Linked DNA regions of Homo sapiens: all the other regions are linked to region 2. Evidence: fine-mapped expression QTL. A gene starts in region 2. Each other region holds a variant in brackets. All regions are shown on one strand. Distances are from middle to middle. Region 1 overlaps METAP1D (methionyl aminopeptidase type 1D, mitochondrial). Region 2 holds the start of METAP1D (methionyl aminopeptidase type 1D, mitochondrial). Region 3 overlaps METAP1D (methionyl aminopeptidase type 1D, mitochondrial). Region 4 overlaps METAP1D (methionyl aminopeptidase type 1D, mitochondrial).

Region 1 (5,332 bases), 51 kb after region 2:
AATCTTTAGTACAAAAAGTAACAGATAGTTGAACATTCATATCCTTAAATATATAAGTATATATATTTAAATAAATGTTTATTTATATTTATGTTTACTTATATACATATATTTACTTATATACATATTTATATTTATGTTTACTTATATACATATACACACACATACACATATATATGGGCCAAATTGTAAGCAGGCATCTATGGAGCTCCCCTTTTAAGCCTGTGCCATTTTAACACTTTGTACTTTTTGAATTAATACCAAAAACTGTCGAGTGAGTATTCATATGGTCAACCAGGTATACCTAGTAGAATTGAGTGTAAAATTATTTGGGCAACATAACTATACCAGTCCAAAAAGCTGCCTTCAGAAAATTTGGAGCTTTTGCTTTTACTAAAGAGGTTACTGTATACTTTCTCTTTATTTTTCTGGTTGAAAATAACTCCTTGATGAGTGATCTTGGCTTCTGTTGTCTTGAATCTGTGTACTCTCAACTGCAGAAGCTTGGAAATATATTGTTTTCCTGAAGCATTAGCTTTCTCATTTTAGGTAGTAATTATTGACCTATCTACCTACCGATTTACCACTCCTATTGACTGGTTACAGGGCAGAGACAAAACTCCTACAGTTGTCAAAATACCACGATAAGATTGATATTCAAATGTTTTCTTTCTATCCCATGCCTTTCACTTAGAGATGTACAGTGAAAATCTTCTCAGGAAGTTTAAGATGTAGGGTTTTTTGTTTTTTGTCTTATTTGTTTTTGATATTGATACTACAATTTTGGTCAAAGCTCTGAGCTATTTCATCCCAATGGTTTGCTTGTGTGGCAATAACTTTCAATGGCCCATTGAAAAGAAAAAAGGAAAGAAAGACATCCAGCAATATACCTAGGGCATGCTGTATCTAGAATTCAGTTGACACTATTGTAATATGAAGACTAAAATCATGCTCTTTTCAAATGCTTTAATGTAATTTAAAAATATATTAAAGCTGTGCTTTTGATCATAGATTATAAGCCCTCATATCTTCTGTTATTGGGCATTTTAATACAAAATAACTAATATTTTAAGTAGTATATGACAGTAGTATTTATGAATAGTCTGGAGGTTTTTTTAAGAATTAAAGAAGGATTTTGTTACTATATCAGTTTTTTTTTAAAAAACTCATGATGTTTTTATATAGACTTTCTCTAAAATTCAGTTCCATGTGTGATTCCTATGAAATTGCTCTTTCTGGTTCTGATTTGTGTGCTTTAATATAAAATCATTCTATTTTCCTCTTCTTTAACCAAAGTGTGTGAGGTAACAGGAATGTTTCTTTTGAGAGACTTTGGAAGGTTGAAATTTGCCAGATGTTCTGTGCTAACCTAGAAGTGTGCATTCCCTGGGTAGCAGGACTGTGTGAAATTCTTTCCTATAACTTTGACAGAGCATTTGGTTTTGGTTCATTTTAGTGTTGTGCTTCTACTCTGATGAGAGCTTGTCTTTTATTCTGTGTTTAAATGATATTAAGGCATCCAGAAAATCTGACAAAGAAAATGATATTTTGATGACATTTTTCACAGGGCTCAACTAGAATGAATTATTACATTTTAACCACGGCCCTAATAAACAGCTTCTTTATTTCCTCTGTAAGGATACAATATTTCTTTGTCCAAGAAGTTGCCTGAGTATATGTATTGTTGAAGTGCTAAAAAGCTGCTTTTCTCTAAACTTTAGCTGAGAGACAATGGGATTTGCCAAGTATATACCATTTCATTGTGACTCAATACTTTATAAAGATGAATTTAAATTTTGAAGTAAACTTTTTTTGTCTCAAATGGAGAAATTCCATGCAATAGCCCTATTGTACAAATTAAACATTTCTATGTAACTTCTACTTATCCACCAAATGATCAGCTTTTAGTTTTATACTTGAGTTCTGACTATAATCTTTGGCACCCTTCCCCCAGCTATAATTCGGCTAGCCTAAAGGAATTTTTTTTCCTAGACTCACAAGCAGGAGCCTATATTATTAAGTAGGAATGTTTATAGATCTGTGTTTCTAGAGTAGGTTGAGGTGTTTTAGTTTCCCAAAAAGAGGGGAATGCTTCTTGTTTTAAATACAGATGCCTGTGTGCTGGTGGTGTACATTAGTGAATAATCACATATTAACAGATTTAGCTTTTGTAAAGAAGCAAAATGAAGTGTTTTCGTAAAACATTTCTGAACTTGTCATTGATGTTATACTCTATCAGTTGCTATTGATAATTTTATTTAAAGGAGGAGGTATATAGTATAGCGCCAACTTCCTGATTAGGCCTTGGGGAAGGTCACGTTTTGCAGTGACCTGGGCACCACTCTTAAATGTTGTTATTATTGGAAGAGGGTACCCTCAGGCTGCTGCCCTTCCTCTCCCCAGAAGCGCTCTGTGACTGACTTTCCAGTTCATCTTTTCTAGAACCAAGACTCCCAGGCTGTAGATGAATTCTGACATCTACAGACCAGTATCCATCTCAACTTCATTTGAGGTGAATTTTATTAGTAGTAGTGACCCAGTCCTACCTTAATATGAGAATGATGCATCCTCATAAAAATTGCAAACTTAGAGCAGTAAACAACTAGGATAAACTTTTATGTTTCAGCATAAAAGTGAGTTATGACTTTTTTGTCATTTAAAATATTGCACACATTTCCTTTTTATTTCTGTGGGATCTTTGTTACTGTTTTAGTGGTCTTAAGTAAAAATAACTTCAAGGACAACACGGTTGGATGTGAAGTAGAATATTTATTTCAGACAAGTATTATGCCCACATATTTTAGATTCAACTATGTGCTTTATTTTCAGCATTAAAGAAAATGAGCTGTTTTCCAACACCTGCATACCAACTGGGCCTGCATCCTCTTTAGAAATGTTGTTTAATAAACACTGTGGCTTTATCATCCAGAGGCTGTTGCCAAATGCTGTTAATTAGGCCAAAAAAATGTTTTTTAAAGGTTGGTGAAACAGATCCACTTTTCTCTCTGTAATGGCATCTTAGCTTGAAATCCAGGAAGCAGTGGTGTATGGTGTCCATATCCA[C/T]GATTTCCTGCATTGGAGAAAAAGTGTGGAAAGCATCTGGGGAAAAGGAGGCTCTTTACCAGCTTGTTTCCTGTAAGTTCAATTGGAAGACCTTGTCTGTGCAAATAGATTTCAAAATAGAGCCTGCCCTTTGACTGTCTCCATAATTACATGGCTCGCTCTGTATTTTATTTGGCAGCCAGAGCAGTTAACCCCTGGAAGGAAGGGGCTGATGGTATGGCCAGCTTGGCTTCCCAGGCATGTCCATGGGAATGAATAAACCACTGTTTGGAGAAGCCCATAGCTAAAAACACACTAGAATAGTCTGTAACTGAACTGAAACTCTTTTAAAACAAGTTCACTAATGTTTATTATGATCGGTTAAAAAACTTAACTTTGTCCTTATTGTGTAGATTATAGAGCTGTATTAATTGTTTTAAAAATTGGGAATTGGGGGAGTTCCTTGTTGCTTTGATGTAATCAACATCTGTCAACAGATGAATTTGCTTTTGTTTAGTTTCAAGGGCTCTTGTCCTTTAGCTTTGCCCAATCAGTATCTGCTTCAGCCTGGGGCATTCCCTAGTAGTGCATGTGGTTTTTTTTCCCTCAGCAAATGCATAGGTTATTTCTCATGAAATGTGAGCTTCTCTTCTGCTTTATAGTTGCCTTGAGATGGGAAGGAACCTTCAATCTTTCTCATTTATTTTGAAACGTACACCTTAGTACTAGATTATAAAAATCAATAAAAGAGTTATATCAAGTGATGCAGACTATTTAATTTTTCTTTAGCAACATTTGTACAAGTTATGAAACATGTCAAGCAATCAGTGTTTTAGGTCAAGAAATATAAGGCATGGATGCATTTGCAGTGTTCTCATGGACTTGAAGCACACAGCGCTGTAAGAGCCTGTGCTCCTACTCTGAGTAATTGGTTGGAGTTCATGAAGTGTGATCTTTCTGTGGGTCTAAATCAGCACCCCGAAAATATATTCCTATGCTATAGTCCCTTCTGAGCTTACTGTAGGAGGCAACATTTTTAAACAGTTAAAAATGTATCAGATTGCTGTCACAAAGTAAGTTGGGTTTTTTTTCTTGTTAAAGTTAATATATTATTAAGCAAATCATTTGGTTTAAAATTAAAATCATCAATGAATGTAAGAACCATATTTGAAAATGAATTAGCAAAACATTGTTGTTTTTCTCTCTTGGTAATCATAAATCATTTAAATCTGGCAGGCATTCCTCTCTTCATCCAAAATAATTGCCTCCATTTGTAAAATCAATTAGATGTTAACATGCTATAAATAATAGTTTTGTTACTAGACTTTGGCATTTACTGATCATTATGAAAAAATATATTCAGTAAGACATTTTACAGGGTGTCTTTTAAATCACATATTATCTCTGGTTGACATTGTTAGCTAATGTAAAGTAGTGCCAAGCTACATTATTGTGTTGTTTTCTACCCAGATATTTGATACCTCTGCAGTGTAACGTAACTGAGGATTGATGGCACACTGCAGGGTGAAAGTGCTTCCCTGGAAACATACAATGAAAAATATATGTGTTGGTAGTCCAAACTTGAGTACAAATGTACTTTGTTCAGTTTTACAACTGCTTAAAATAATAAGCATTTTAAATGTCTCTTTGAAAGTTCATTCAGACCTCTCCCTTAAAAATACTTATTGACCAAAAGAAAACTCACATTTTCAGGGATAAAATCAGCTTAATTAAGGGTCATTAGTAAAGGTGCACATGAAAACCCAGGGCTCAGTGGGTGAAATGGAAGCATTTCATTATGTGGTATAGGATGCATGAGCAGATAACAATTAAAATGGACCCTGAGTAAGAGGCCAATAAATATAGGGCATGTTGTGTGCAGCAACATTCGTTATTTAAAATGCATTCCTCCTGGCCAGGCACGGTGGCTCATGCCTGTAATCCCAGCACTTTGGGAGGCCGAGGTGGGCGGATCACGAGGTCAGGAGATCGAGACCATCCTGGCCAACATGGTGAAACCCGTCTCTATTAAAAATACAAAAATTAGCTGGACGTGGTGGTGGGTGCCTGTAATCCCAGCTACTCGGGAGGCTGAGGCAGGAAAATGACTTGAACCCGGGAGGCAGAGGTTGCAGTGAGCCGAGATCGTGCTACTGCACTCTAGCCTGGTGACAGAGCAAGAAGACTCTGTCTCAAAATAAATAAATAAATAAATAAATAAAATGCATTCCTCCCTCCATCATACTTGAATTCTATAATCCTACCTTCAGATTTAACCTATAAAGGAAAA
Region 2 (5,332 bases):
CCATGTTGCCCAAGCTGGTCTCGAATTCCTGACCTCAAGTGATCTGCCTGCGTTCGCCTCCCAAAGTGCTGGGATTACAGGCATGAGCCACCACACCCAGCTTATATCCCATAAGTTGATGGTTTTGGCGGACATGTGCTGGCAGCTTTTAACCCTTCTGCGGTGAGAAGGATGTGTATGAGAGAAGCCAGATCCAGGGTCAGTGGATGAGCTATCACCTGTGCAAGTTCATATTTGCTTCATTTCTAGCTCATCCCAGATATCTACATTCCATGCCGAACTTATTGAGGATTTCCTCACTGGATTCCACTACTGCTGGTGCCACCTGGGTCCTCATAGTGTTTCCTTTTCCTTTTAGTTGTAGGGGAATAAAGCATTCATTTATTTTCCAAGGGTTGGCTGAGTTAAGTCACATGAACATGTGTTCTATTTCAGATGGGTTTGAAACTAGGCTTGATGCCTTAAGGAATAGGGATGTCTAGATTTCTTTTTTCTGTACACTGCTTAAGACTCTGTGGCCAGCTAACTCTCAGGCTCCTTTGCTGCACTCAGATTGCTGGCCTCAGTTACACAGAGGACAGATTTGCCACATTCAAAAATGCTCTCCCTGGAATTGAAATGAGTTTGCAAAAGGTAGGAGTACATTTTATTCTCATTCTTGTGCATCTTATTTACCCTGATGGAAAGCATTACTTCTCTTTATCTTTCAAGGTGACCCAAAAGCATCCAAAACCAGGTTTTCCAGAATTATAGCATGTGTCCTCTAATGAAATGCCAACATTCACTCTCTTTAAAAGTAAAAATATCAAGATTATATAGTCATTAAAAAGAATAAGTCTGAACTAAGTGTTCTAAGATTTGATGCCTATGATGACTGGAATGGAAAAAGCAAGTCATATGATTCTATTTAAAATACTTACATTTGCCTGTGTGTAAAAGGCAAAGATCTCAATTGAGCACACGGTGGTTAACTGGGGAGTGGGACTATGGTATGTACAGAGGGCGAGGAAGGGGCTTGCACTTGTTCCTTATTTCTGAATTGTTCTGAATTGTCTAGATTATTCACTGAGTGTGTAGTGCTTAAAAATTAATTAGAAGACATCACACACATTCACTGAGAATCCTAATCAATCTTCACTGCATTTAAAGTCTGGAAACGGTTACATTCTCAGTTTGACTGGTTTCATGCAGTGTTCAATTGCTTCACCTGACATTCCTCGGGTATCGGGTTCTGTGCCGGGCACGGAGGCTACTAAGATGAATAACACCTGGTCCATGACAGGATGGCATCTACCCCAGAACACAGGTAAGAGAGACAGTGAATTTGGTAAAAATGGGCACCGTCATCAGTAGGCATACATCAGCTCCCTCATCTGATTCACAATTGGCCTTCTGTAGGCTTCTTCTCTTGGCAATGCAATTGGCAGGCGTCATCCTTTTATACTTAAACTCCAAATTTAGGATTAAGACTCCAGTTAATACTGCCAAGCAGAAGGCGTCCTTGGAGAAAGAGAAGTCTCCTGAACATACCCACTGGGGTACCTAGAATAGATTTTGCAGCGACACACAGATCCTGTGTTGTCTGGAGTCTCTGCTGAGTAATGTAGATTCTGGGACAGCAAAAGGGGAGCTGGTGACTTTGAACCAAATTTTACCTTTCAACTGAATCCAGGGGAATAATTTGCAACAGAGTGGCAGACGATACAAAGTGCTATGTTGAACACTAGATTGTGCTTTATTTTTTCCGCCCAACTTCACGTTTCCATGCACCAAAATGTTGATGCTATAAATATTGGATGCCACGCTTACCTGACAGGCTTCTTCCATCCCACCTGGGCGCGGGGGCTCAGAGCGAGCGCGCGAGCCGCGGCTGGAGCCCGCCTCTCGCGGCTGGAGAGGACTCAGCCGGCCGCGGGTTCTGCTGCTTGCCCGGGTGCCCTAGCCGCTTCCCAGCCAGGGCTCCCGCAGTCAGCCCCGCGCGCGCACGCGCGCTCCCCTCGGGCGGCCTCGACGCCTCAGGGCTTCGGCAGGGCTGCGACTGGCCGGCTCCAGCGGGCGGGGCGGCGAGCGAGTGCTCGCGGCCACGTGACCGACGCCAACATGGCGGCGCCCAGTGGCGTCCACCTGCTCGTCCGCAGAGGTAAGCGCGTGGAGGAGAGCCCCGTGAGGGTTCGCACGGTTGCTCACTAGGTACGCACCCGGGTCCAAAGGGATGCGCACCCGCGCTCAGACTTCTCGGCGCACACGACTGTACTTTCAGTGTTTACGAACACACGCAGGCACACACGATGACACATTCACACACCACAGGATCACACATACAAATTTGTTCACTGATCACCCGCCTAGAACACGTCACCACGTGGCATCTTTTCGCAATTACTCCTTGAGATTTGCGGGCCATTGTCTGAAGTTTTTTTCCCCAACTTCGGTTGTATCATTAGTGTAACCAACATTTATTCTGTATGCCGAGCAAGGAAACCTATGGTAATTCTGAAATGCATCTGGACACCCGGTTCCCTTCCCTAGAGCTTTTATGCAGGCATGCTTTTTGGGGACTTGCAAAATGTGATGGTTTTCTTCCAGTGACTTAAAGTTAAGAAGATAAGAAAGGATGTCTGGGTAGTTCTAAGTAGGTTTTATCCTGCGTGAGTGTTGAGATTTTAGTAAATATACAAATGCCTTTGCAGCAGAATTGGGGAAATCTTTGTTGGATTTGAACTAGGTGCTGAATCTTTGTTGGAAAGAACTAGAAAGTTTTTCCAAGGACGGGGGAAGAGGAAAACTATCATATTTTGAGGAGCTACTTAAGCGTCAGGCATGTAGGAACAGTTTTGTGAGGTAAATATTATTTTCATAGTAACAGCTACTGTTTATTAAGTGCCTTTTAAGTACACGATACTGTGTTAAGCGCCTTACATATGCTTGCTTCCTTTTAAAACTCAATGAATGAGACCCCGTCTCTACAAAAAATTTTAAAAATTAGTCGGGCGTGGTGACACATGCCTGTAGTCTCAGCTATTCTGGGGGTTGAGGTGGTAGGATCGCTTGAGCCTGGGAGGTCAAGAGGCTGCAGTGAGCCGTGATCGTACCACTGAACTCCAGACTTGGCAATAGAGCCAGACCCTGTCTCAAAAACAAAAACAAAAACCCAGTGAGTTAGGAATTATTTTCTCTTTGCAGAAGGGAAAAGTAAGGCTAGAGAGGTTAAGTAACATTACTAAGGTCGCATAAATGGTAAGAGGCAGATTGCTCATTTGAACATGACTCTAATTTTTTTTTTTAAGACTCATTTCTCGGTACTGCATGACGTGGTCACTCCATAGAAGTCAGTGTGTAAAGTTCAGCAGAGACAGTGCAGGATGAGTGTGTACAAAAAGTGAAGAGAGCCTGGGCACGGTGGCTCACACCTGTAAACCCAGCACTTTGGGAGGCCGAGGCAGGTGGCTCACTTGAGGTCAGAAGTTCAAGACCAGCCTGGCCAACATGGTGAAACCCCGTCTCTACTAATATACACAATTAGCTGGGCGTGGTGGCGCATGCCTGTAATCCCAGCTACTCGGGAGACTGAGGTAGGAAAATTGCTTTAACCCAGGAGGTGGAGGTTGCAGTGAGCTGAGATCATACCACTACACTCTAGCCTGGGCGACAGAGCGAGACTCCGTCTCAGAAAAAAAAAATAAATAAAAATAATAAAAAATAAGAAGTGAAGAGGAAGATATTTTTAGAGAGGAAGAAGGTTGGTAATCGAATAGACTTCAGTATTTCAGTGTTAGTGGAGATGAGAAAGGGGCCACAGGAAGATTTGAGGGGAGAGATGTGTATGGGGAAGGTGATGTAGCGAGCATTTTGGACTGGTTGCATGAAGGAATGGACATCAGCATGAGAGTGTAGCCTTGTGAAAAGACAGCCAATTTACATCTCTCAAGATCTGGGTGCCAGGCCTGGCAAGGTGGCTAATGCCTGTAATATTACCCAGCACTTTGGGAGGCCAAGGCGGGCAGATCACTTGAGGCCAGGAGTTCAAGACCAGCCTGGCCAACATGGTGAAACCTGTCTCTACTAAAAATACAAAAATTAGCCAGGTGTGGTGGCACATGCTGGTAATCCCAGCTACTTGGGAGGTGGAGGTGGGAGGGATCGCCTGAACCCAGGAGGCGGAGGTTGTAGTGAGCTGAAAAAAAAAAAAAAAAGATCTGGGTTCCAGTCCAAACTTTCTTTACTAATTACTTTTCTGTTTCCTCTTTTCACAAGAAATCATGGCTTTTAGACTTCATTTTTGTATGCTTCAGGTAATGGTGAGAAGGATCTGAGGAGATAGTCAATGTAGAGGAGGAGCCAAAAAAAAAACAACCTGAAAACATACATAGGTGTATGTATGTATATATATATACACCTATGCATGTATAAACGTATTTTTATATGTGTGTATATATGTATTAGGTTGGTACAAAAGTAATTGCAGTTTTAGAATCAATGACAAAAACTGTGATTACTTTGCACCAACTGTATATATAACATCTCTTTGCAGATAACAGAAATAGCATTAATCTTTTCTTTCTTTTTGATCACTTATTATTTTGACAAATGGTGGTTTAGACAGTCTTGAGAAAATATATTATATGGAAGTCAGGCCAAGTTATTGGTTCCTATAATCCATCCCACTGTATCCCAAAGTGTTGCAACAACCAAGAAGTGGATCCTCTGATTAGAGGAGAGAAGAAAAATGTGTCATCAGGAAGCTATTTTAATGATGGAGAAAGGGCCCCTTTTTGGACTACCCATAGCTAGTTTTAAATTGCAGAGAGGTTTTCCTGCTCCCCACCCCCAAGAATTGAAAATGAAGGGTAAATTCACGAAGACTCCTCTCTCCACCCTCTTCCTCCCTTTCACCCATCTAGATTTATGTAAAGCAATCCATTACAAGTCTTCATGTACCAGGATTTATTATCAGCATTTATGAGCATCATTTCTTCTTGAAATAGAGGAAGACTTTTTTTTAACCTTTTAAAAAAGGCATGAGGTTTCTCTTGTGACGCCTCAACTCATTGTGGCTTTGGTCACAGTATACCCTATATACAGTAGTTACCTAGCTCCTCTCACCATTTCTGCTCCTTACTAGATTATTAATTCTTGTTGAACAGAAGCTTTGTCTTATGTATCTTTCTGTCTTTATAAGCACAGTACCTGGCTCAAAGTTAAGCTCATTAAAAGTATACAGAATTGAGAGGCTGTTAAGATTTGTTCTCTTCCATCATGGTCTAAGGAGGGTTGGGTAGAAACTATGAGTAGTGACATTGGAAAGAGGAAAAGACAGATCAGCCTCTTGGAA
Region 3 (5,332 bases), 59 kb after region 2:
CACCACTGAATTCTCTAATCCAGAGCATGGCACATGCAATGAGTTCATTAAGTAGTTGTTGAATGAATGAAGGCATTTAGAGACCCCACAGGTAAACATGTTGAAGAATGGAGAAGGAAAAGGAAAAGAAAGGAGCATTTATGGAGCACCTATTTTTTAAAAGATGGTTTACCTATTTATGTTATCTCAGCAAATGCTCACATCAGCTCGTGGTAGGGAGAGCACTACTACTCCCATTTAATAGTGAAGAAAATGAGTCTCAGAAGTTTTGGTAACTCACACCTGTTTGACCTCCAAGCTCATGCTGTTGTCACTACCATAGTGCCTCCCAACTGGATCATTTCTAAGAATTTTCATGAAAAGTGTCTTCATTCTAAATGCTAACTAGTTACATGATATTTACATTTTTCATGATAAAAAAAACTGACCTTGAAATCTAGTCCCTGAAAGAATACATTATGTAACAAAACACACTAGCGAATAGAACTCATAGAGCCCCTGCACACTGCTGAGAGGCAACTGGAATGGCAGACACAGCCCTGGATTTGGATTTACAGGATTAAGCTTGGGGCCTGGTCATTGATTACCAGACTTGTGAGCCTTAGTTCCTCATCTATAAAGCAGTGATGTTAACAGCTACCTGCCTAATGACAGAGCTGGTAAGAGGTAATGTATGTAGAGCACCTAGCACTGAGCTTAATCTAAGTGTCCATTAAATTTTAACCACTGTTATTATTACTATTTATATTAGCATTATCATTATTAATAGTAATTATAATACTTTCCTCAGAAGAGAAACACTTGTGAGTTTGTGTCTTGTATGTGGTCCTGCCTAGCAATGCAATTAGGGAGGTGGAATCATAGATTGAGTCCACCTGTGTCTTTCCAAATTTTCCATTTCATATCCACAGACTGTCCAACTAATAGTTCTGGCAGCCACCTCCCCAAAGCGTGTGTTTGGTCAGCGAAGGCAGCTTGGCTTAAGGTAGTGGGTGGATTAGGCCAACCCATCACCACTTTTGGAAAAATAATAGTAGTAGTAACAATAGTTTTGTGATGCCTTTTCAATTTTCTGGGTATTTCCCTGTGTTTTAGCTCCTGTTTTTTCTCATGCCTGTGAGAGAAGTAATACATTTTGTAGAGGCAACTTAGCCTGCTTTCCCTCTCAGCTTTGGCACTTACTGCATGTTCCTTTGTGTGCCTCAGTATCTTCAACTGTGACATGGAGTAATAACAGTTCACAATTCATACAGTTTCTGTGAAGATTAATGAGCTAACATATGTAAAGTGCCTAGTACAGTAATTGAGGCATAATAAGTGTTCAGTATTAGAAGCTATACTGGAGGTCATGTTTTCTTTCCCATTTTATTTTTTGTGCAGACTTTTTTTTTTTTTTTGAGACAGGATCTTACTCTGTTGCCCAGGCTGGAGTGCAGTGGTGTGATCATAGCTCAGTGCATAACTCAGTGATCATAGCTCCAGGGCTCAAGTGATTCTCCTGCCTCAGCCTCCTGAGTAGCTGGACTCCTGAGTAGCTGGACTGACTCCTGAGTAGCTGAACTCCTGAGTAGCTGGACTACAGTAGCTGATGGCCCAAGCCACCACATCTGGCTAATTCTTTTATTTTTTGTAGAGATGGGATCTCACGATCCTCCCACCTCGACCTCCCAAAGCGCTGGGATTACAGGTTTTTATGTATTCTTGAAAGAACTATTATTTATTGGGTATCTTCTAAATGCAAGACACTTTCACATTTCTTATTTCAATTCTCACCTGAGACTGAAATGAAGAAACTTGTGCAGGGCCACACAGCTAATAAGTGGTAGAGCTGAAACAAAAGTCCAGGCTTCTGCCTTCCAACTGTCTGCTTTTCCTAGGACACTACCCTGTCCCTCATATATCAGTTGACAATACTAGGGTTGGTGATATTGTCATTAGGGAAATATTATACTTTAAAAGCTTTACACAATACATACCTGCCTCTATCAAGCAACTTTTTTTTTTTTAGAGAGACAGGAGTCTTGCTTTGTTGCCCAAGCTGGTCTCAGACTCCTGGGTTTAAGCAATCCCACATCAGCTGCCCTCCAAAGTAGCTGGGACTACATGTATGTGCCACTGTACCTGAG[T/A]TTTGTAACTTCTTTTTAAAGAAATGATATTACTGACATTTTGTCTAGTGCTTGAAATTGTTTAAAATAGTACCAAAAACACCTCTATAAGTTAGATTCAACAATATTGCAGTCCACTTTAAGGAGGGACATAATTGAGTGAAACCTATCACCCTGAATCACTGATCATTGCGGTTTGTTTGCATCAGTGCCTTTCCCCAAGTCAATTAGAGATCCAGAGTTTTGAAGCCAGTACTTACCTGCAATTCACGTTTTCATTATGTTTCACAGCTGAAATGTTACTCTAGGCCAGTTCTCAAGCTTCGTGTGCGTCAGGATTACCTGAGGGCTGGTTAAGGCACAGATTGCCCGCCTCCATCACCAGTTTCTATGTTTGTAGGTCGATACGGGGCCCAAGAATTTGCATCTTTTTTCTTTTTCTTTCTTTCTTTCTTTTTTTTTTTTTCTGAGACAGAGTCTTGCTCTGTCACCCAGGCTGGAGTGCAGTGGCGCGATCTTGGCTCACTGCACCCTCTGCCTTCCGGGTTCGAGTAGTTCTCCTGCCTTAGCCTCCCGAGTAGCTGGGATTACAGGCGCGCGCCACCATGCCCGGCTAATTTTTGTATTTTTAGTAGAGACAAGGTGTGGGATTACAGGCGTGACCCACCGCACTCAGCCTTGCATCTTTTTTCTATGTGACATTATACTGCTGGTCTGTGAACCTCATTTTAAGGACTACTGCTCTAGACCAGGATTCAGCAAATGTCTCCTGTAGAGGGCCAAAGAGTACATTTTTTAGGCTCTGTGGAACATGTGTTCACAACTACTCAGCTACCACTGTAGCTCAAAATCCTCCATAGACATTTGTAAGCAAATGAGGGTAGCTATGGTCCAATGAACCTTTTATTTATGGGCACCAAGATTTGAATTTCATGTATTACAAAATATTGGGTTAAAAAGTTTTTTTCAACCATTTATAAATGTAAAAACCATTTTTAGGTTTTGTGCTGTATAAAAACAGTCAGCAGTCCAGATTTGGCCCTTGAGCTGTAGTTTTCTGACCCCTGCCATGTAGTTGTGACCTGTTGGGGACTTCTAAAACTATTGTTCTGGCCAGGCGCGGTGGCTACGCCCGTAATCCCAGCACTTTGGGAGACCAAGGCGGGCAGATTACGAGGTCAGGAGATTGAGACCAGCATGGCCAACATGGTGAAACCCCGTCTCTACTAAAAATACAAAAAAATTAGCCGGGCCTGGTGGTGCGCGCCTGCAGTCCCAGCTACTCTGGAGGCTGAGGCAGGAGAATTGCTTGGACCTGGGAGGCGGAGGTTGCAGTGAGCCAAGATCGCGCCACTGTACTCCAGCCTGGGCGACTGAGTGAGACTCCGTCTCAAAAAAAAGAAACCAAAAAACAAAAAACAAAAAAAAGATTGTTCTAAATATGAAAGTAATAAAATGAATCAAAATGTCTTCCTGGCTGGATGCAGTAGCTCACGCCTGTAACCTCAACACTTTGGGAGGCCGAGGTGGGAGGATCGCTTGAGCCCAGGAGTTTAAAACCAGCCTGGGCCACATAGCAGGACCCCATCTCTACAAAAAATACAAAAATTAGCCAGGCATGGTAGCATGTGCCTGTGGTTCCAGCTACTCAAGAGGCTGAAGTGGGAGGATTCCTTGAGCCTGGGAATCCAAGGCTGCAGTGAACCATGATCGCACCACTGTTGCCTTAGCCTGGGCGACAGAGCAAGACCCTGTCTCAAAAAAAAAAAAAAAAAAAAAGTCTTCCTCTCTACCTCTAGCCCCAACCACAAGCCACAGAAAGAGCCACTGTTTACAAATATCAATTTCCAGAAATTTTATGAGCACGTGCAAGCTTATATAAATGTATAAGCTCCTTTTACATTAATGGGCTTTTTATATGTATTTGTTAAGCATTCACTTTTTTCCTAACAGTGTATTGTGACCTCTTTCCATATCAACACATAGAGATGATGATTTAGCCTATTCTTTTTAATAGCTCCAGAATTTTCTGTAAGTATACCATAATATATTTAATCAGTCCCCTACTGGTATTTCCTATTTGGAAACATTTGAGTTGTTTCCCACTTTCTTCTACCACAAATAATGCTGCCATGAGGGTACATCTTCATTCATCCATCAGTGCATAGTGTCTGCAGGATAAAGTCCTAGGAGATGAACTGCTGAGTCAAAGGATATGTGCATTTAAAATTTTGATAGACATTTCTAAATTCCTGTTGTGAGTACTTCAAACCCTATATTCATTTTCTTTCAGTGTTATACTTACATTTTTGCTATTTAGTCTTTATCTGACTTGAACATTCATCACAATGAATTTCAGTATAATGCCTCACTGCACGTGAACTTAACACAGAGTAGTAATCCTATGGAGGGCAAAAAGTGCAGCTGGCAATTTGTCCGTGATTCTTGAAAGGAAACGGCTTTACAGAGTATAAAGCCATCAAAACAGTGCCCTGAATCTAGGGTCGTCTTGGACATTGCCACATAAGGTATTACAGCAGAAATTGTTCTTTTTACAGACCTGGTGCTTAGCAGATGTTTCTATATGTTTGTTTCCCGTTAGAGTAGAGTTTTCCATTGTCACGCATTTATGTAAACATAGTATTAGCTAATAAATACGCTGTGTTACTATTGTACTAGAATTCAGAATACCACTGTTTTCATTTCTATTTGGGGCTTTTCCTTTTTCAGTCAATAAGGTATTAGAATAATGATTTAATAGACAACACCACAACATCTTAAAGTGGAGGACTGTGTTAGGTTGTTTTTTTACTTAAAATATGTCTGTTTCTGCTCACAGGTTCTCATAGAATTTTCTCTTCACCACTCAATCATATCTACTTACACAAGCAGTCAAGCAGTCAACAAAGAAGAAATTTCTTTTTTCGGAGACAAAGAGATATTTCACACAGTATAGTTTTGCCGGCTGCAGTTTCTTCAGCTCATCCGGTTCCTAAGGTACTGTATTGCCTATTATCTCCTGCTTTTTCCAGCCAAGATAAAAGTTGACTGCAGAAGTGATCAAATATTTTTGCACCTTTGATTTCTGAGCCATTTGGGTTTTAATTTTCAAACTAGGTTTGTGATCTAAAACTGTGATTTGAGAAGTTTTAATATCCTGCAATTCTATAGCATTAATTTTTTAAAACAAAGCTCTAAGCTTTCAATTGCTTAGAGTATTTAGAATT
Region 4 (5,332 bases), 68 kb after region 2:
CTAATGGTCCATAACACCATCATATGCCCAAATGATTGTCCACAAGGCACAGTTGAGGATTCTAACACTAATCATAATTAATTCAAATGTTGTACCATAACTTTATCATAGTAAATTTATACAGTCTCACATGGAAGTACTGTTGCTATAGCATAGTTGATAAATACAAGAAATGTCTTCAATTGTTGCTGCACAATTTCTTTATTTAACATTTTAGGTTGACATGACAACTGAAGAGATAGATGCTCTTGTTCATCGGGAAATCATCAGTCATAATGCCTATCCCTCACCTCTAGGCTATGGAGGTTTTCCAAAATCTGTTTGTACCTCTGTAAACAACGTGCTCTGTCATGGTATTCCTGACAGGTATTCAGTTCTTAATAACATATTGTTCCTTTGGAAACTAAAACATGAAGCTAAGATCTGTAACATATGTTGAAAGACACTATCATTCAATTGAAACCCACCGGTAAACTTCTGAAATTGATTATGATAAAACAGAAATTTTGAAGTATTTTACTTCTAAATGGATACACCACCACCATTTAATGTTTGTTAAAGCAGTGCATAATCTAAATGGGGGTTGTGCATTACGTATGTCTTTTACTTCTTAGATTTTAATCATATAAGTGGTAAAATTCAAATGTGGCAAATTTTTCTTATCAACTCTTGTTTTGGTTCTTGGCAAAATTAAGGTAATAAATTAAGTGCATCTTTTGAAATAAAGATTAGATTTAGTTATCCTGTGTAGTCCTCCTTCACTCCAAATTATCACTGCATCCCATTGGGTTTGTGACAGTAGTCATTAAGTATTTATTTTTATTTTCCTTTTATTGAGATCTGTCTATCACCATTTTTTTTTCTGTTTACGTTTTAGTCGACCTCTTCAGGATGGAGATATTATCAACATTGATGTCACAGTGAGTAAATCATATAAAAAATTGTCTTTGATCAACTTCAGAATTGCTGGTAGCAACAGGAAGAGTGGATTGAAAATGTGAACTGCACCAGTGGAAGTGCTGTTTACTTCTAGACCCAGACGCAAGCAGCTGGTTTCCTTTTTTGTCTTTAACTCTGTGTTTATTCCAAGTAAACCCAGGCCTGACTTGAATTTAGGGCTGCAATCAGATGCACTGAGATCAATGTTGGCCTAAGTGAAATGTCAACCCAATCCTGCTATGTGTCATGTTTTTGAGAAGGTGTAATTGTTATTGATCCACTGTGTAGTTAACGCAGAGCACCACAGCACTGGGCAGCTGCTGAAGCTAGATATGTATGAGATGAGCTAACACGAAGAAAGCCAGCATTTTTCCTTCACTCTGCCAAGATTGATCTTCCTCTTCCTGCTGATTTTGAGTGGGGCCTGTCATTATCTTACTCTGTCATTAGGGGCTACATTGGCCTGTGTATGTCAGTCTATTTGGACAGCAACTCTTTTGCTAGCAGTGTTCCCTAGATTTATTAAAATCCCTGAAGGTAACGTTGAGTTCCATTTCTGGTATAGAGAGCCTTGTGCTCAAAGTAAGCAGAGTGGTTTTTTTGTCTGAACTTAAGTTTTCACCAAATGGTTAATAGCCTTTCTTTTAAGTAACAAGCCTAAGTAATTTATCATAGGGACTTCAAATTGTACAAGATGTAGCTTTTTCTCATTTTCTTAGCCTTTTACCATTCTCAGACTTGGATTATATGTGCTTTTACATTTCTGTTTATTAAAGAATTTTGTAATGATACCTTTGGATTACCTAGATTATAAATAAATTCTGTACATCTAATGATTAACAAATACATTTTAAATAAATAAACAAAATTTAAACATCTTAGGAGAACTAGTTGAAATGACAATATTCAGGGAATACAATTTCTATTAATAAGGAAGTGTTTTTAAGAATAGTATCTAGACCATGAAACTGAAGTAGGAGTGGGAATGAGATAAAAATAGGAATCCAATGGTGGAATTCAGTCTGACTTTTAGTTTAAGTTAACTAAACCTTTTTTCTTCATATCAATCATATGAGGAGATAGCCAACGATTCTTTCATTGCTGATGCTATTTCCTGTATCATTTTATCCTACTTAAAATGCTTGAACACTTGCACCACATACATCCTGTTGGTATCTTTCCAACTCAGAATCATGTGGAAGGAGGTATTTTATGAAGTATACCTAAAACAGAGTTCTTTTCATGAGACACTTTTATTTTGGATTGTACCTGATTTTACGGTTTTACATCTATTTTCTCATCTAGTCACCCTATCATGAAATGTTACCATTTTAATGTTTTGAATGAAATCAACTACTCTTCCCTACTGTTTCCAGTGTGTCCAAAGAAAATACTCTATTCCTTTTCTAAGTTTCCTGAATACTTAATAAACAGTTTTGTATTTAACATTCAAATTACTTCACAATTG[C/T]AAAACTTATAAAGCAAAGTGAAATATTTCCAAGTGTCTAGAAATGTGAAGGAATCTAGGAAACATATAGGTCCATATCTTAACAAATTATATTTCTTATAAAATATTTTATTAAGTGAAGGACTCCATTATCAGATCCTATGTTTCTATCAGAAAATACTCATTGCATCTTAGAATTATTGACGTCTAGTATACATCACAAGAAATTAGATTTCCTTCCCCCCTTTAAAACTGAAAAATGTTTTTCTTAAAGACAATGCGATGTCCATAGTAGTTGCTCAATAAATATTTGTTAAATGAAGTACAAGGGCCAGGCGCAGTGGCTCATGCCTGAAATCCCAGCACTTTGGGAGGCCAAGGCAGGCGGATCACCTGAGGTCAGGAGTTCAAGACCAGCCTGGCCAACATGGTGAAATCCCATCTCTACTAAAAATACTAAAAATATAAAAATTAGCCCTGTGTGGGGGCAGGAGCCTCTAATCCCAGCTACTTAGGAGGCTGAGGCAGGGAGAATTGCTTGAACCTGAGAGGCAGAGGTTGCAGTGAGCTGAGATCGCGCCCCTGCACTCCAGCCTGGGTGACAGAGCGAGACTCTGTCTCAAAAAATAAATAAATAAATAAATGAAGTACAAGTACTAGTTTATGGGTATAAATAGAAATTGTAGATGACTGCCACAGACTTTCAAAAGTATTGTATTTCTGTATATAGTGAATCTTTTAAGTAGTCTTTTTTTTTTTCAGACGGAGTTTCCCTCTGTTGCCCAGGCTGGAGCACAATGGCAGGATCTCAGCTCACTGCAAACTCCGCCTTAAGGGTTCAAGTGATTCTCCTGCCTCAGCCTCCCCAGTAACTGAGACTACAGGCACACGCCACCACACCCAGCTAATTTTTGTATTTTAAGTAGAGGCTGGGTTTACCATGTTGGCCAGACTGGTCTTGAACTCCTGACCTCAAGTGATCCGCCCACCTCCGCCTCCCAAAGTGCTGGAATTATGGGTGTGAGCCACTGCACCAGTCTCAAATAGTCATTTTGATATTCCTTCCTTCCTTCCTTCCTTCCTTCGTTCCTCCCTTCCTCCCTCCCTTCCTCCCTTCCTTTCTTTTTCTTTTTCTTTGTTTCCTTTTCTTTTTTTACTTTTTCAGATATAGGGTCTTGCTCTGTCACTCAGGATGCAGTGCAGTGGTGCCATCATGGCTTACTGTAAGCTTGAACTCCTGGGCTCAAGTGATCCTTCTACCGTAGCCTCCCAAGTAGCTAGAACTACAGGCGTGTGCCACCACACCTGGTTAATTTTTTAATTTTGTAGAGATGGGGTTTCACTATGTTTCCCAAGCTGGTCTTAAACTCCTGGTCTCACGCAATCCTCTCATCCCAGCCTCCCAAAGGATTGCAGGCGTGAGCTACTGCACCCAGCCTCAAGTAATCATTTTCAAAGCTAGGAAAAAGTAATATGAAAAGATGAATAAAGATTTTTTAAAATAGTACATTTTTACTTAAAAAGCAGTTATATAAACATTCATTTATACATTTTCTTGACTACGCCTATATTAGCAAATTTTATATTCTTGTATTTTGAATGAAATCGTATTTTGTATTTTGAAATAGTATTCTTGTATTTTGAATGAAATATAAGAATATAAAAATTTGAATTTTTGAACGAAATCAGCATAGTCTTCCCTACTGTTTCCAATGTGTCCAAAGAGAATACTCTATTCCTTTTCTAAGTTTCCTGAAGACTTTTAATAGTTTCATTATTAACATTCAAACTATTTCAAAATTGTAAAACCTATGAAGCAAAGTGAAATACTGCCAAGTGTATAAAATAAAAACTCATACTTTCCTGGATTGCAAAGGACTGTAAGTGGGAGTAAATGTATAAAACACTATTCTGTTGCAAGGTAATTAAGATAATTTGATATAGTAGAGAAAACACTCGATTAGAAGCCAATAATCCATCATATTAACCTGAATCTACCTCTATATTCTGCCACCAACCTTAAACAAGTTACTTATCTGTGCCTCAGTTTCCTGAATTATAAACTGAAGATCTAATAAAGACCTTTCTTGCTTCCTTCACAGAATATGAGAGCATTTTTTAAGAAATGCAGAGTAGTATACAGATTTAAGACATTAATTCAGTATCACAACAGACTGAAAGCTCATATAAACATCTTTTTTATAACAGTTTCTACATTCTACCTTATGAGCAAGAGAAATGTGAAAAATAATTAGATAGGACAAATTTATGCAAAGTAGCAAATTCCATGCTACATCAAAGGATCAGTATCCAAACAGTTGCCTCTGCCTTTTATATTTACTATAGTGCTTGGTTATCAATGATTTATAATGAATCTGGTATCTTTCAAGATCCTACTTGGCTTCTGAATCACTGAAGACTGATAAAATTATACTTTCTGTAATTGTGCTTTTAAGCTTGTTTTATTATATTCTAATTCTTTAGATATCCATATATAGTGCTTTCTGTTAACGTTCGGCTGTCTGGAACATTTGATTAAGATTTCACTTCTAGACATAGGATTTTTCTGTAACACATTTCATTCCTATATGGAACCACTTCAATTCTTAGAACTGAATTCTCCTATTTGTTTGTTAGAATACAGACATGTCTATCTTACTTCTTCTTGTCATTATATATCACTTCAAATGTAGAACTGGTAAATACAAAATCAAGTAAGTCTTCATGACATTGAAGAAACTTTTCACTATGTTAAATACTTTTTGGTTCTCTAAACCTGTTGTGGTAATTGTAGATCAAGGTCTTTGGCTACTAATTTTTGCTTATATAATTTTGTCTTCTCAGAAATAAAGTGAGGAATCAAAATATTACAGTAGTATTGTTCATCATAATGCTGAAATAACCATACTAGTTAACATAGTTGTTTTTAAATTTTGCAATATCATT

The links.
Region 1: its variant is fine-mapped to the expression of METAP1D in whole blood (TOPMed, PIP above 0.99).
Region 3: its variant is fine-mapped to the expression of METAP1D in whole blood (TOPMed, PIP 0.99).
Region 4: its variant is fine-mapped to the expression of METAP1D in whole blood (TOPMed, PIP above 0.99).

What each region holds. Positions count from the first base shown.
Region 1 is chr2:172,049,285-172,054,616 of GRCh38, forward strand. All of the region lies in intron 1 of METAP1D (methionyl aminopeptidase type 1D, mitochondrial), which reads left to right. Among named protein-coding and RNA genes, the nearest start is that of DLX1, 34 kb to the right of the region's middle. The variant C/T (reference allele first, on the strand shown) is at 3,064.
Region 2 is chr2:171,997,870-172,003,201 of GRCh38, forward strand. METAP1D (methionyl aminopeptidase type 1D, mitochondrial) reads left to right here and starts at 2,084. Exons shown (of 10, transcript NM_199227.3): 1 at 2,084-2,140. The coding sequence starts at 2,101. LOC124905590 (a long non-coding RNA gene) reads right to left here and starts at 2,040. Exons shown (of 3, transcript XR_007087296.1): 1 at 1,810-2,040. RefSeq lists a silencer at 1,779-2,078.
Region 3 is chr2:172,056,554-172,061,885 of GRCh38, forward strand. It overlaps METAP1D (methionyl aminopeptidase type 1D, mitochondrial), which reads left to right. Exons shown (of 10, transcript NM_199227.3): 2 at 4,945-5,102. Among named protein-coding and RNA genes, the nearest start is that of DLX1, 26 kb to the right of the region's middle. The variant T/A (reference allele first, on the strand shown) is at 2,127.
Region 4 is chr2:172,065,387-172,070,718 of GRCh38, forward strand. It overlaps METAP1D (methionyl aminopeptidase type 1D, mitochondrial), which reads left to right. Exons shown (of 10, transcript NM_199227.3): 4 at 218-366; 5 at 878-920. Among named protein-coding and RNA genes, the nearest start is that of DLX1, 17 kb to the right of the region's middle. The variant C/T (reference allele first, on the strand shown) is at 2,408.